Linked DNA regions of Homo sapiens. The protein of the gene in region 1 interacts with the protein of each later gene in a biochemical or structural test. Each region holds a gene or a part of one and is shown on either strand. Other genes may lie near its edges.

Region 1 (3,882 bases):
ACCTTTCTTTTTCTTTTTTCCTTGCCTATTTTTCTTTCTTTTTTTTTTTCTTTTTGTTTTAAAGATATTTGGGCTATAGGGTGTATATTTGCAGAACTACTAACGTCAGAACCAATATTTCACTGTCGACAAGAGGACATCAAAACTAGTAATCCTTATCACCATGACCAGCTGGACAGAATATTCAATGTAATGGGATTTCCTGCAGGTACACATTATTCGTTTTTGTTTTTGTTTTTAAATCACTGTTGTTTGAACTTAGATGTCTTCGTTGGAGAGGTATATATTTTTAGCTGATGGAAGCTACTTTTACTTGAGTCTTTGTTTTTTGACTTGCATTTATCAAAGATCCGTAGAAACAGCAAAATTTGTAGAGTTTACATATTGGCATGGAAATATTTATGGGTTTCCTGAATTTCAGGACTGTATTTTTGTTTCATCTTGTTTTACTTTTTTGTTTTGTTATTTGGTATTTGAAATGATAAAATATGTTCAATATCTGTATTAAAAAGGTACCTTTAGCTCTTACCAGTAGAAACTATAAATGAATTCAGTAGTAGGAATTTTTTTCTGGCAGCACATATAATACTGCCACTATTTGGCATTCAAATATAAATTTTGAACCTTATTTCTATTTAGGGCACTATACAGAATCACATTATATTGAATAATAGCATTTAAGTCTTCTCTTAGAACAGTCACAATGTGGGTGAGAGTCATAGTACCCTATGGTGAGTTAGCCTGCTGTTTTGCAACAGAGAGATGGTTTACATGTATCCTATCCCTGGTATTAGATCTCTCCAACTGTATCTCAATCCCTAGTTATATTACAGAACGGTAATCACCAAAAACTGCTCAGAGGTCCAGAATAATGAGAATTTGTTTAAAACACCTAAATTTTGGCTAGTCAAGTACTTAGTAGAAAGTGTTTCTTATTAGGAATATTTCTCAGGTCACTATAAACTCAAGACTAATAGAGATAATACCTGGGACTTTTAATTCTACATTCCCTTGTAAGGGTGTTAATTATCAGTAAATGCAGAATAACTACACAGATACTGCCTTTCTCCAAAATTGGTCACCAGTGTGGAGAAGACTTCTGTTGTGATGGGAATTTTATTTATTCAGTAAATATTTATTGAGTACCTGCCATGTGCCAGGCACTGTCTTAAGTAAAAAGTTATTGATGATGTAACAGACATGATTTTTGCCCCCTTGGAGTTTGCATTGTACTGCTATATGTAGAATGTTTAAAAAGTAGGTATGGTTTTGAGTAGAGACAGAAGAATTCTGTTTTCTTCCTGCTTCTGAATGTGTCCACCATTTCTGAGCCCACGGGAAAGGCATAGCTTCTGTGAGGGAGTAGATGTGGTGAAGATGTCTATCAGTGACTCTTAATATGTGGTTCAGAGGTTAGGGTGGTTTATAAGGAAGCTTGGAAAGCAGGCAGCAGAGGTTAGATTTGATAGCTAAAGAATGAGAATCCATCAGTTCTTGAGTACTAGAGACATGCTTTATGTTGCATTTTAGAAAGATTTAGTAAGATGGTGGTAGGTAAAAATCTGTTAAAAAGAGCTAACTGAAATCAGAAACCAGCTGTAGCAGTGCTGCAGACAGAAAGTAGAGTGAAGATAAGGATGGAGAAAAAAGGGCAGATGGAAATGTTTTATAGGAAGTGTATAAGCAAGGGAAAACTAAAGATTATCTTAAAATTTCTAGCATGAGAAATTGATAAAACACAGAAATTGGAGCAAGGAAAATAGTTAAGGAGAAAATTCCATTTAGGAGTGTAGTGTATGTTTAGTTTACAATATGTGATGTCTTTGGAGGATAGTTACCAAATATTTTTACAAGTAAGTTCAAAGAAAAGCAAGCCTCTAAAGGCCATTTAAAAGCTAAAGGTTTTGCGAGGCCGCGGTGGGCGGATCACCTGAGGTTGGGAGTTTGAGACCAGCCTGAACAACATGGAGAAACCCCGTCTCTACCAAAAATACAAAATTAGCTGGGCATGGTGGCTACATGCCTGTAATGTATTACAGGCATGGGATTACATGCCTGTAATCCCAGCTACTCTGGAGGCTGAGGCAGGGGAATCACTTGAACCTGGGAGGCAGAGGTTGGGGTGAGCCGAGATCGCACCATTGCACTCCGGCCTGGGCTGTTAACAAGAGCGAAACTCCGTCTCAAAAAAAAAAAAAAAAGAGCTAAAGGTGCTGTTAAGCTGCCTGTGACAGTCCTTTGCACCTAGTAGACTCTCAGGAAAACCCATTGGCAGATATTGGAGAGAACACATTATGTAGCATGTATTGTTTGAGCAACTTGGATGCCAGCAAAAGTAGCTGAAACGTTTTGTACTTAACGTATTTAGGAGCTGGGGTTGTTTTGGGTAATGTTAACCAGACTAGCCAAGGTACCAGCCCACTTATTAATATACTAATTATATCCTACCCTATTGTGCAAATAGTTATTACCCCTTCTTCCATTGATTGCTTATGTAAAGAAATATATTTAACAAGGTGAAAGGAGGGCTGTATCATAAAAAGAAGTATAGTTTAAAGCCACTGAGGGGAAGATCTTAGATTTCTCATTGAAGAAATTGATTGCTGACTTAACCAAGAAATTTGGTAGAAAAGGGGAAATAAGCAGTTTTACTAATAGAAAGAGGACATTTAATAAGATAAATAGAAATATGTATAACTTATTCTTCTCTAGTGACAGAAATTGAGGCAGCTTATAGTAAAACATACAGAAAGTTTGCAGTTTAAAATTTAAAATATAAACAGATATATAAAGTTATATAAGGGATAAGGAATTATGTTTACACTTCAAGATATTTACTGTTGCTGAACATTTATTTGAAGACAGCTTTTTTGTGTGGAGGTTGAACGGATAGGAAATGTAATGAACGTGGTAATAACCTTTTTAAAAATTCTCAAGAATAGGAACTTAGGCAACATAAAAATTTATCAATGTATTTCACAGATAAAGATTGGGAAGATATAAAAAAGATGCCTGAACATTCAACATTAATGAAAGATTTCAGAAGAAATACGTAAGTTGGAAAAAAAGAGACTCCTTGTTGATTTTTGCTTTACCAGAATACTCAGTGTAAGACTGAATATTCAACATAATAAAATACTCAATATAAGATTACTCTAATAAATAATTTTACTTATTTACTCTAATAAATATTTTTCATGATGACAGTCTTTATTTCTTAAGATGCTTAAATGATTATATACAAAAGTGACTAATATTAGCAGCTGATTTGGATATAAAACAAATTCATGTCTTTCCATATTGACTACTTTTTGGAAGCTAGACATTAGTGAGAAGTATCACAGCTGAATAAATAAGAATCTAAATAAATAAACTTTGGTAATAGCCACTTGCTCACCAATCTAGGTTACAGTAATTTTAAGCAGGTTTTAACAGAGAAGAATGGATATTTCACCTGTTTACAATGCAAAGCCAGGGATTGGGAGAGTTTAGTTTGTATACCTATGACAAAAGTATTTTACACTTATTGGTAAGGCTGAATTAAACTTTTGACCCAGATGTTATTTAAAATAATTGTTAAAATATAATTCATGTGAAAAAAAAAGCTGTTTAGTGTCTGTTATTCATGAAATTGTCTTACATTTAATCATCGGTATCCTTTCAAAAGTGACCATTGTGGATATTGAATGAAATAGAAAACTGATTTAATTCTACTCATTTTATGCTCATAGTGTTTTCAATATATATTTTATATCGGTTATGATCAAAATAATTCTCATCAGAAGGACTTTAGCCAATGTACAATTAACCTCAAGTCTAATATAGCTATTTCATAGTATTTCTCTTTCAGGTATACCAACTGCAGCCTTATCAAGTATATGG
Region 2 (3,648 bases), on another chromosome or scaffold:
TGTGCTACTTAGTAAAAATTGATTACAATTGAGGGAAGTTTGATAGATCCTTTAAAAAAAAGGCAGATTTCCATTTTTTGTATTTTAACTACTTTACTAAATTAATACTCCTCCTTTTACAGAATTAGAAAAGTTAACATTTATCTTTAGGTGGTTTCCTGAAAAGTTGAATATTTAAGAAATTGTTTTTAACAGAAGCAAAATGGCTTTTCTTTGGACAGTTTTCACCATCTCTTGTAAAAGTTAATTCTCACCATTCCTGTGGTACCTGCGAGTGTTATGACCAGGATTCCTTAAACCTGAACTCAGACCACTTGCATTAGAACCATCTGGAGCACTTGTTTTAAAATGCAGATTCATAGGCAGCATCTCAGATCTACAGAACAAGAATCTCTGCTAAGTGGACCTGGAATCTTCCATCTGCATCTTAACATGCTCTCTAGGTGTTTCTTGTGTTTGAGAACCATGACTTATGACTTTCCTCAGAACATGAGACTGTAAAACAAAAACAAAAAACTATGTGATGCCTCTATTTTCCCCAATACAGTCACACATCAGCTCAAAATTTGCAATATTGTAGTTCATATATTACCGTTATGTCTTTGGAAATCGGGTTCAGAACACTTTTTATGACAAAAATTGGGTGGAGGGGATAACTTTCATATCTGGCTCAACATCTCAGGAAAATCTGTGATTATTTGTGTGTTCTAATGAGTAACATCTACTTAGTTAGCCTTAGGGATGGAAAAACAGGGCCACTTACCAAACTCAGGTGATTCCAGGATGGTTTGGAAACTTCTCCTGAATGCATCCTTAACCTTTATTAAAACCATTGTCCTAAGAACAATGCCAACAAAGCTTACAACATTTAGTTTAAACCCAAGAAGGGCACTAAACTCAGATTGACTAAATAAAAAGTACAAAGGGCACATATACGTGACAGAATTGTACACAATCACTCCATTGGATCTTTTACTTTAAAGTAGTGATGAAAAGTACATGTTGATACTGTCTTAGAAGAAATTAATATATTAGTGAAGCCACATGGGGTTTCAGTTGCGAAACAGGTCTGTTTTTATGTTCAGTTTGTACAATCCACAATTCATTCACCAGATATTTTGTTCTTAATTGTGAACCAGGTTAGCAAATGACCTATCAAAAATTATTCTATAATCACTACTAGTTAGGATATTGATTTAAAATTGTTCTACTTGAAGTGGTTTCTAAGATTTTTATATTAAAAATAGGTGTGATTTCCTAATATGATCTAAAACCCTAAATGGTTATTTTTCCTCAGAATGATTTGTAAATAGCTACTGGAAATATTATACAGTAATAGGAGTGGGTATTATGCAACATCATGGAGAAGTGAAGGCATAGGCTTATTCTGACATAAAATTCCACTGGCCAGTTGAATATATTCTATTCCATGTCCATACTATGACAATCTTATTGTCAACACTATATAAATAAGCTTTTAAACAAGTCATTTTTCTTGATCGTTGTGGAAGGTTTGGAGCCTTAGAGGTATGTCAGAAAAAATATGTTGGTATTCTCCCTTGGGTAGGGGGAAATGACCTTTTTACAAGAGAGTGAAATTTAGGTCAGGGAAAAGACCAAGGGCCAGCATTGCTACTTTTGTGTGTGTGTGTGTGGGTTTTGTTTTGTTTTTTTGGTTGGCTGGTTGTTTTCGTTGTTGTTAACAAAGGAATGAGAATATGTAATACTTAAATAAACATGACCACGAAGAATGCTGTTCTGATTTACTAGAGAATGTTCCCAATTTGAATTTAGGGTGATTTTAAAGAACAGTGAGAAAGGGCATACATCCACAGATTCACTTTGTTTATGCATATGTAGATACAAGGATGCACATATACACATTTTCAAGGACTATTTTAGATATCTAGACAATTTCTTCTAATAAAGTCATTTGTGAAAGGGTACTACAGCTTATTGACATCAGTAAGGTAGCATTCATTACCTGTTTATTCTCTGCTGCATCTTACAGAAGAGTAAACTGGTGAGAGTATATATTTTATATATATATATATATATATATATATAATATGTATATATATATATATTGACTTGTTACATGAAGATGTTAAAATCGGTTTTTAAAGGTGATGTAAATAGTGATTTCCTTAATGAAAAATACATATTTTGTATTGTTCTAATGCAACAGAAAAGCCTTTTAATCTCTTTGGTTCCTGTATATTCCATGTATAAGTGTAAATATAATCAGACAGGTTTAAAAGTTGTGCATGTATGTATACAGTTGCAAGTCTGGACAAATGTATAGAATAAACCTTTTATTTAAGTTGTGATTACCTGCTGCATGAAAAGTGCATGGGGGACCCTGTGCATCTGTGCATTTGGCAAAATGTCTTAACAAATCAGATCAGATGTTCATCCTAACATGACAGTATTCCATTTCTGGACATGACGTCTGTGGTTTAAGCTTTGTGAAAGAATGTGCTTTGATTCGAAGGGTCTTAAAGAATTTTTTTAATCGTCAACCACTTTTAAACATAAAGAATTCACACAACTACTTTCATGAATTTTTTAATCCCATTGCAAACATTATTCCAAGAGTATCCCAGTATTAGCAATACTGGAATATAGGCACATTACCATTCATAGTAAGAATTCTGGTGTTTACACAACCAAATTTGATGCGATCTGCTCAGTAATATAATTTGCCATTTTTATTAGAAATTTAATTTCTTCATGTGATGTCATGAAACTGTACATACTGCAGTGTGAATTTTTTTGTTTTGTTTTTTAATCTTTTAGTGTTTACTTCCTGCAGTGAATTTGAATAAATGAGAAAAAATGCATTGTCTCTGGTTTGAAATGACTGTTATTTTGTGGGCTTTCTCTGGTTTTTAGGTTTTCCATAAACGTAAAACACATTGCTATGAATATAACAGTGATCTTCAAGGATGTTTTGCCCTTCTTAGAAAAATAAAGGGGACAAAAAAGAAGGTGGCTGGCAAGTTAGTGCACTAGAAACAGGGTAATTAAGGCATAACTCAAAGTGACAATCAGCCTATGGCCTTTCTCCCATGATTCAGTGTGTAACTAGTTGATCACTGTAAATTTTTAAACTAGAAAATAGTTTGTGCAGTATTCAAAATTAATGTTGACTATATGTATATACATACACACTTCATTTTAGGATAAGACTTTATCAGAAGGCTTTTATCCAGTTTTTAATGGGTGTGGTTTATTTTAAATAAAAGAAAAAGGAGTTTAATAATTTTCCAAAAATGAATGTGTATGTATATACACGTGTTTACATGTTTAAATATATGCTGTATGTGTATAGGTAATGAGTAATTGATAAGCAACATACATACTCAATAAGTATTAGAGACCAGTGGATTCCAAGAAAAAAAAAAAAACTTTGTACCCAGGTAAACTTAACAGCTTAGGAATTTTTATTTTTACAAATAATGATAATTTATGAGAAAGACATTTTCCCAAAGAGGAATTCTGTTTCCTGGGACCCAGATAGGTCTATTGTAATCCATGCAGCTTCTCTCTTAATAGGTTTATAAATGTCTAAAAATGTTCAAGTAATAAAAATACTTCCTGCTGTTCTACATTATTAAAATGTTGAAAAATTGCATCTTGCTATTT
Region 3 (3,559 bases), on another chromosome or scaffold:
GGAATTTCAGAGAAATCTGCCCCCAGCACACAGCATCTAAATGATCATGTATGGAAGATCAACAGGAAGAATCTTAGTGATTTTAAAAGGCTCCTTCGGGTAGCCTTCACATCTTGGAGCAGACAAAGGAAGGGACAAGTGACTGGAAGGCACAGGCTGTGGCCCTTTGTGAAGGTCCCTGGCATCTGCTGTGCTCCGCAACTGGGGCTTCCAGCAGGAATGAGCACGTGAAAATGAAAATGATAGGATATCAGGAAGATTATTTATAGAGCTTCTCTGAGAGAGTAAGAACAGCATGGTGGAGACTGGGTTTTCATTTCTATGGGGATAACTTACTACAAGGGCTCCCTATCCCTGCAGAAAACTTGGGTTGATTCTGTAAAGGGAATTCTCCTTCCCTCCAATTCTCATAATGTTCATTAAATGAAAATTCCTAGAAGTAAGGATCTGAGTCCTTCTGGGCCAGGGATCCAGAGTACAGACGATGTGCACATCTGCCCAGGCCCAGCCACTCCACGTCATGACTCTGGGAACTCCAACCACTGCTCCTCAACAGGCAGCACCGAAGACACAGCTCCAACCAACACAAACTACTACGGCATGGCATTGTGCCTTTTTGTCGAGGTCACCTTTCAAAGAATTGCTCTTTCTGACCTGGTGCTCCTCTTACCCTCACAGCTCGGCAGGAATCAGGAGGTAGGAATGCTATTACCAACAGGGATTTTCATGGATGGATAAAAAGGTCATGATGCAAATCCTCCAAAAAACTGGGCTCAAAACCCAAGCATCTTGTCCTCTAGGCCAGCATGAGAGGTCTGAAGTGTCACTGCCTCTAGCTAAAAGAGGGAAGGTCAGACAACCCTGTCCTCCTAAGGCCAATAATGGGAACTCTCACCAATGCATAAAGAGACACATTAAAAACGTATCTCAAAAGGCAGCCTGGATTGCAGTCTTTTGCAATCAAGAACCTGGGAGTCTAATGTTCTAGGGATGTCCTTTTAGTGGACCATAGGGGGAATTTAATTCCCCTACTTCTAGAACCCTCCATCTATCCCCAAAATATAAAGCCCTCTGGACACCAAATACTGACATAAACGTAATATTTGTGTAACAGGAAAGAAAGCAAATGCCTCAGCCAGTGAAAGTTAGCCAAAGCTTTAGAATTTCCCAATTATTAAAATACCTGATTTGTAGTACAGGATAGCTCTGATGTCTGGGAGGCAAACTGAGGCAAACTAAGGCCTGGAGCTTACCAGCTGATGAAAGGAAGAGCTCTCCTAGCTACCTAGAGAGGCATCCCTGAGAAAGCAGCCCTGCGGGGCTCAGATTCACACAGTGCTGGTCATAGTGCCATGGCACCTCAGTCCTGCCAGGACGGCACACTTTCCACCAACAGCTGCCCTCAGAGATTCATGCAGAGATAAAGGGAGTTTGAGGCAAGGCCTCTAATCTCCTAATGCTTGGTGCCTGCCTGCTGACAGTGGCCCTCGCTTCTCCTGGAGGCCAGGGTATCAAGAAGGCCTTGGTCCTAGTCTAACCAGAAGCCAAATGGATATGTACCTTGAAGCTATAACCTTGATCTACCAAGAATCTCTGCCGCTTGGTTGAGTAAGCCATTTCCTGTGTGTCCTGGGATACCAGTGAGTAGAAAAAGGCATTGTACTCTTCTGCAACCATCCCTGCAGGAAAAAATGAGAAACGGCAATAAAGAAGACAACATTAGCCATTAGAATGCCAAGAGCTAAGGGTCCCAGGCTCAAAAGCAAGCACTGGAGTGGAAAAGCCCTGCACTCGGGGTTACCACCTGAACTTGGCATGGGATTGCATCAAAATTTGGAAGTCTTTTGTGCTTCCAAGGACACCATCAAGTGAAAAAACAATCCTCAGAATAAAAAAATGTGGAAAGCATATATCTGATAAGGGATTTGTATCTAGGTTATACAAAGAACTGTTGAAACTCAACAACAAGACAAATTAATTATAAATGAGAGAAGAATATGAACAGATTACTTCTCCAAAAACAATATAAAAATAGCCAGTAAGCACATGAAATGATGCTCCACACCATTAATCACCAGGGAAATGCAACTCAAAAGCACAATGAGATTATCACCTCACGCCCCTCTCCGAGGATGGCTACAATCAAAAAAGCAGATAACTGCCACTGTTGTCAAGGATGTGGAAAAACTAGAACCCGCATGCATTGCTGTTGAGAATGTAAATGATGCGGCTGCTTTGGAAAACAGTCTGGCAGTTCATCAAAATGTTAAACACACTGTTATAACCACATGACCTGGCAATTCCACTTCCAGGCATAAATCCAAGAGAAATGAAACTATATCCACACAAAAATTTGTACATGAATTTCATAGCAGAATTCTTCTAAGAGCCAAAAAGTGGAAACAGCCCAAATGTCCATCAACAGATGTGTGGATAAATAAAATGTGGTATGTCCATGGAATCGAATATTATTTAGCAATAAAAAAGAATGAAGTACTGACAGATGCTACAATATAGATAATCTTTTTGAAAACATTATGCTGCCGGGTGTGGTGACCCAGTCCTGTAATCCCAGCCCTTTGGGAGGCTGAGGTGGGCGTGGATCACTCAAGGTCAGGAGTTTGAGACCAGCCTGGCCAACATGGTGAAACTCCATCTCTACTAAAAATAGAAAAATTAGCCAGGCGTGGTGGCTCATGCCTGTAATTCCAGCTACGCGGGAGGCTGAGGCAGGAGAATCCCTTGAACCTGCGAGGCAGTGGTTGCAGTGAGCCAAGATCGCCCCACTGTACTCCAGCCTGGGCGATAGAGCGAGATTCCATCTCCAAAAAACAAACAAACAAAACATTATGCTAAGTGAAAAGAAACCAGTCACAGAAGGCCCCAAGTGGTCTGACTGCATTTACATGAAATGTCCAGAAAAGGCCTACAGACATCAAAGTAGATTAGGGGCTGCCTAGAGCTGGGGGTTGGGAACAAGAGGAAATTAGGAGTGGCTGTGCATGGATGAGGGTTTCTTTTGGGAGCTGATGAGAATATTCTAAACATGAATTGTGTTGATAGTTGCACAACTTTGTGAATATTGTATTTCCTAGGTTTTCTTCGAGGATCCTTATAGTTTGAGGTCTTACATTTACATCTTTAATCCATTATGAGTTGATTTTTGTATGTGGTGATAGGCAGGGGTCTGGTTTCATCCTTCTGCATACAGTTAGCCAGTTTCCCCAGCACCATTTATTGAATAGGGAGTACTTTCCCCACTGCATATTTTTGCCAATTTTGTTGAACATCAGTTGGCTGCAGGTACATGGCATTATTTCTGAGCTCTCTATTCTGCTCCATTGGTCTATGTGCCTGTTCTGTACCAGTACCATGCTGTTTTGGTTACTGTAAGCCCTGTAGCATAGTTTGAAGTTGGATACTGTGAGGCCTTTGGCTTTGTTCCTTTTGCTTAGGATTGCTTTGGCTATTCAGGTGCTTTTGTGGTTCCAGATGAATTTTATAAGTTTTTTTTCTAATTCTGTGAAAAATGATGTTGGCAATTTGATAGAATAGTGTT
Region 4 (3,882 bases), on another chromosome or scaffold:
TAGGTCGTTGAGGCTGCGGTACTTGTGGTTGCGAATGCGCTCCTGCAGTGGACGGGAGGAGCAGGTCTTACCTCAGGACCCCGCCTCGCCTGCCCGCAGGCCTGGCTGTGTGCTGGAGACCCCACGGGCTAGGATTCCTCGTGCCTATGAGGATGTGGCCGAAGCGCCAGCCTCGGTAACCTGGCTCACTAGGCATGGGAACTGCATGACTGAGGCCCAGCACTAAGTGAGTGGGACCTTGAAGGAACACCCAACACCGACTGCCCACTGACATCCCTCAGGACACCCCCAACCCTTACAAGGAACCCCAAAAGCCCACGACCAGGTCCCTAACCAGGTAGCCCAAGGCACCGCCTAGGTGGTTTCTGGTCATTCTGCCCACACACCACAGCTCTCAGATGGGGGTGCCCCTGGGTCAGACTCCCCTCCGGGCACATGCGGGGCGCAGGTACAACGTCAGGGTTACCTTTATCTTCTTGAAGTCCACGGGCTTGCGGATGAGCTCGTAGTACTCGGGCAGCTCCTTTCGCGAGGGCAGCTGGATGAAGACCTCGCTGAGCTGACGTCCACTGCTGCTGCAAGGCAGAACCGGCGGCTATCACCCCCGAGTCCGCCCACCCGGGAGCCCCCACCCCACCTCAGCAGGTTCCCACATTGTTTAAGGATGAGAAATTCCAACTCAGCTCAGGAGCTATTTCTTGCACATGCGCTTTTTTTTTTTTTGAGACGGAGTTTCGCTCTTGCTGCCCAGGCTGGAGTGCAATGGTGCGATCTCGGCTCACTGCAACCTCCACCTCCCAGGTTCAGGAGATTCTCCTGCCTCAGCCTTTGGAGTCACTGGGATTTTTTACAGTCGTGCACCACCATGCCAGGCTAATTTTGTATTTTTAGTAGAGACAGGGTTTCTCCATGTTGGTCAGACTGGTCTCAAACTCCCGACCTCAGGTGATCAGCCCGCCTCAGCATCCCAAAGTGCTGGGATTACAGGTGTGAGCCACCATGCCTGGCCTGCACATGTGCTTTCTTGTAGCTTCTGGAACATTTCCCAGAGACAACCACACAAACAGGCCTGTGATACATTTTTTTGTTTTTTGTTTTTTTTGAGACAGAGTCTTGTTCTGTCGCCAGACTGGAGCGCAATGGAATGATCTCGGCTCACTGCAACCTCTGCCTCCTGGGCTCAAGCAATTCTCCTGCCTCAGCCTCCCGAGTAGCTGGGATTACAGATGCCAGCCACCACACCCGGCTAATTTTTGTATTTTTAGTAGAGACAGGGTTTCACCATGTTGGTCAGGATGGTCTCGATCTCTTGACCTCGTGATCTGCCTGCCTTGGCCTCCCGAAGTGCTGGGATTAGAGGCAGAAGCCACTGCAGCCGGCCTGGGATGCATCTGGATCTCTGCTCTGTCCTCACTGGGGACTGATCTAACCCCCTGAACACCACAGGAAGCGCCCTTGTGCACTCGGTACAGCGGCAGTGATGAGATGCTGCCAGGCCTCGTGCACAGCGCTCCCAGCTCTTACCCATACCTGAGCCTGGCTCAGCAGGACAGGGTGGGTGGGGACAGAAGCTCTGAGAGCTGACCTTGCTCTGACAGAACCCAGCCCGCAGGCTGGGAAAATGAGAACGCATGGCAAACGCGCTCTCCTCTCTGCTTTGGCCCAGAGGAAGGGCCTAGCCAGGGAACGGCCCCAAGCAGGGAGCCACCAGGCGGACGAAGCCTAAAAGTGGCCAACGGGGCCTGATGGGAAGGAGGAGCTGAGCTTGGGTCCTGATAACTCCAGCTGCCTCATCAGCACCGCTTCTTTCCTTATGTTCTTTCCCAGAAAATTCCAGAGGGCAGGGCAGCCCGCCCATGCCACTGGCTGGCCCCGCCGTCTGTTTGGGTGTCCTGAGTGCGCCTTGTCTTGCTTCTGTTTACCACGCTGGAAAATGGCAGCGACAACATGGTGGCTTCCCTGGTTCTGTTGCTGGGGTCCTGATGTCACCAAGGGGCAGACGGGCCAGGCTTGCCTCCAGGAAGCTGCTCGTGAGCAGGATCCCGGAAGGCCTCCTGCTTGTTTGGTGTTTGTGTGCATCACGAAGCCCCTGACCCAGCTTCTAACATGAGAGCCTCCTGAGATGCAGACGTTACACACGGGAGCCAGAATCCTGTCCCTGCACCTCCCCTGGCCTTGACAACCGCCATCATCCCCTGCTTGCTGGGCCAGCCACACTTTACACACACTAAACTCTGAAGCAGGCACCAGTGCCAGGCCAGCCGTGCTGAGGAGGAAATTGAGGTGGGAGTGAATCTCCTGGCCTGGACACAGCCCGCCTTGAGCCTCTGCCTTCCAGGAGTGTCCTTCCCCAACGTGTGTTCATGAAGTACATCTCCCCATCTCCTGCCAGGAGGTGTTTTTGGTCCTGGGTGTGGGACCAGCCGGTCCAGCATGGGAGCACATACCCTTCTCAGACTGCATTCCCATCGTGGGCCCTCCCTGGAGGCACAGGCTTCCTTTTTCCTATGAGCGGGCTGGTGGCCGGCTCTGCCACAGGCAACTGTTGGTAAACCCAGTCCACAGGCTCAGAAAATAAGAACACACAGTGGATGCGCTTGCTGCTCGGTGACCCTGGAGAAAGACACGACTCCCCTCTGAGTCGGGAAATGTGTGTCCCATCTGCAGCTCGGGCAGAGCGGGCCTGTACCTCTTCCCTCTCCTAAGCCGGCACATCCTGTTCTCCACTCTACGGAATTTTATAAGCAAAGAGCTCTCCTCTCTCTTCATGATGGCAGCATCCACCCTATACCTGTTACAATAAGGCACAGCAAGAGTTGCGCTTTACACTGTGAAGCAGGACGTGCAGCACAGGCAGGGGCAACAGAAGAACCCCAATGCGATAGTCTCTTCTATGAAAAGCAGCGCGCTTTGCCATTTTCCATTCTATTACATTTTTAAAGATATGGTGGCTCGTGCCTGTAATCCCAGCACTTTGGGAGGCCAACGTGGGAGGATTGCTTGAGCCCAGGAGTTTGAGACCAGCCTGGACAACATGGCAAAACCCCATTTCTATTTGACTGGGGGAAAAAAAAGCCAGTTTTGTGATCCATTCAATGCCCTTAGTGGCCAGCAAACAGTGCAGACTCTTGGCTTGAAACGCCCTGCCCTGTGGCCATGGGGGGCTTACTGCACACTGTGGCCCTTGCCCTGGAGGGCGGCTCCCTATGCAGAGAGCCCAGGAAGTGAGACCCCAGGGCTGTGACAGCAGAAGGCTTTATAATAAGCACCCCACCACCCCAACAGCCACCTCCATCAGGCTAATGAGAAACAGCTACAGGCAGCAAAAAAAAAACAAGGTGCGGCTGGGCGCAGTGGCTCACGCCTGTAACCCCAGAACTTTGGGAGGCTGAGGTGGGTGGATCACGAAGTCCGGAGTTCAAGACCAGCCTGGCCAAGATAGTGATACCCCGTCTCTACTAAAAATACAAAAATGAGCCAGGCGTGGTGACAGGCACCTGCAATCCCAGCTACTCGGGAGGCTGAGGCAGGAGAATCACCTGAACCTGGGTGGCAGAGGTTGCAGTGAGCCGAGATCGCACCACTGCATTCTAGCCTGGGCGACAGAGTGAGACTCTGTCTCAAAAAACAAACAAAAACAAAACACAAAACCAAGGTACAAGAGCACCCCTTCCCAGACCTCTAGGAGAATTACGTTCTGGATGAATCAAGACCACCCAGTTGCCGGTCTGAGGATTCCGCTCTGGTGCAGAGTTCCCTGGAGGTCCTGTCCTCAGGCTTCCCTGCAACAGGCAGGGTGCTGAGAGCCTCCCTCACCTCTATATTAAAGAGGGACATGCTGCAGCCTCCCCGCACTTGGAATGAAACCCGGAGTCCTCTGGA

What was found. The genes of interacting proteins can lie anywhere in the genome.
Region 2: the proteins of CDK8 (region 1) and NRIP1 form a complex in vitro, tested with the Homo sapiens proteins (one study listed by BioGRID).
Region 3: of the proteins of CDK8 (region 1) and ERCC3, one has a biochemical effect on the other in vitro, tested with the Homo sapiens proteins (one study listed by BioGRID).
Region 4: the proteins of CDK8 (region 1) and SMARCA4 form a complex in vitro, tested with the Homo sapiens proteins (one study listed by BioGRID).

The regions. Positions count from the first base shown.
Region 1 is NC_000013.11:26,393,303-26,397,184, forward strand, and holds part of CDK8 (cyclin-dependent kinase 8), read left to right. Parts: intron 1-64; coding exon 65-208; intron 209-2,982; coding exon 2,983-3,052; intron 3,053-3,850; coding exon 3,851-3,882.
Region 2 is NC_000021.9:14,960,435-14,964,082, reverse strand, and holds the end of NRIP1 (nuclear receptor-interacting protein 1), read left to right. Parts: 3' UTR 1-2,848; downstream 2,849-3,648. UniProt on the Homo sapiens protein: Modulates transcriptional activation by steroid receptors such as NR3C1, NR3C2 and ESR1. Also modulates transcriptional repression by nuclear hormone receptors.
Region 3 is NC_000002.12:127,259,668-127,263,226, forward strand, and holds part of ERCC3 (general transcription and DNA repair factor IIH helicase/translocase subunit XPB), read right to left. Parts: intron 1,680-3,559; coding exon 1,561-1,679; intron 1-1,560. UniProt on the Homo sapiens protein: ATP-dependent 3'-5' DNA helicase/translocase. Binds dsDNA rather than ssDNA, unzipping it in a translocase rather than classical helicase activity. Component of the general transcription and DNA repair factor IIH (TFIIH) core complex.
Region 4 is NC_000019.10:11,054,948-11,058,829, reverse strand, and holds part of SMARCA4 (SWI/SNF-related matrix-associated actin-dependent regulator of chromatin subfamily A member 4), read right to left. Parts: intron 576-3,882; coding exon 467-575; intron 43-466; coding exon 1-42. UniProt on the Homo sapiens protein: ATPase involved in transcriptional activation and repression of select genes by chromatin remodeling (alteration of DNA-nucleosome topology).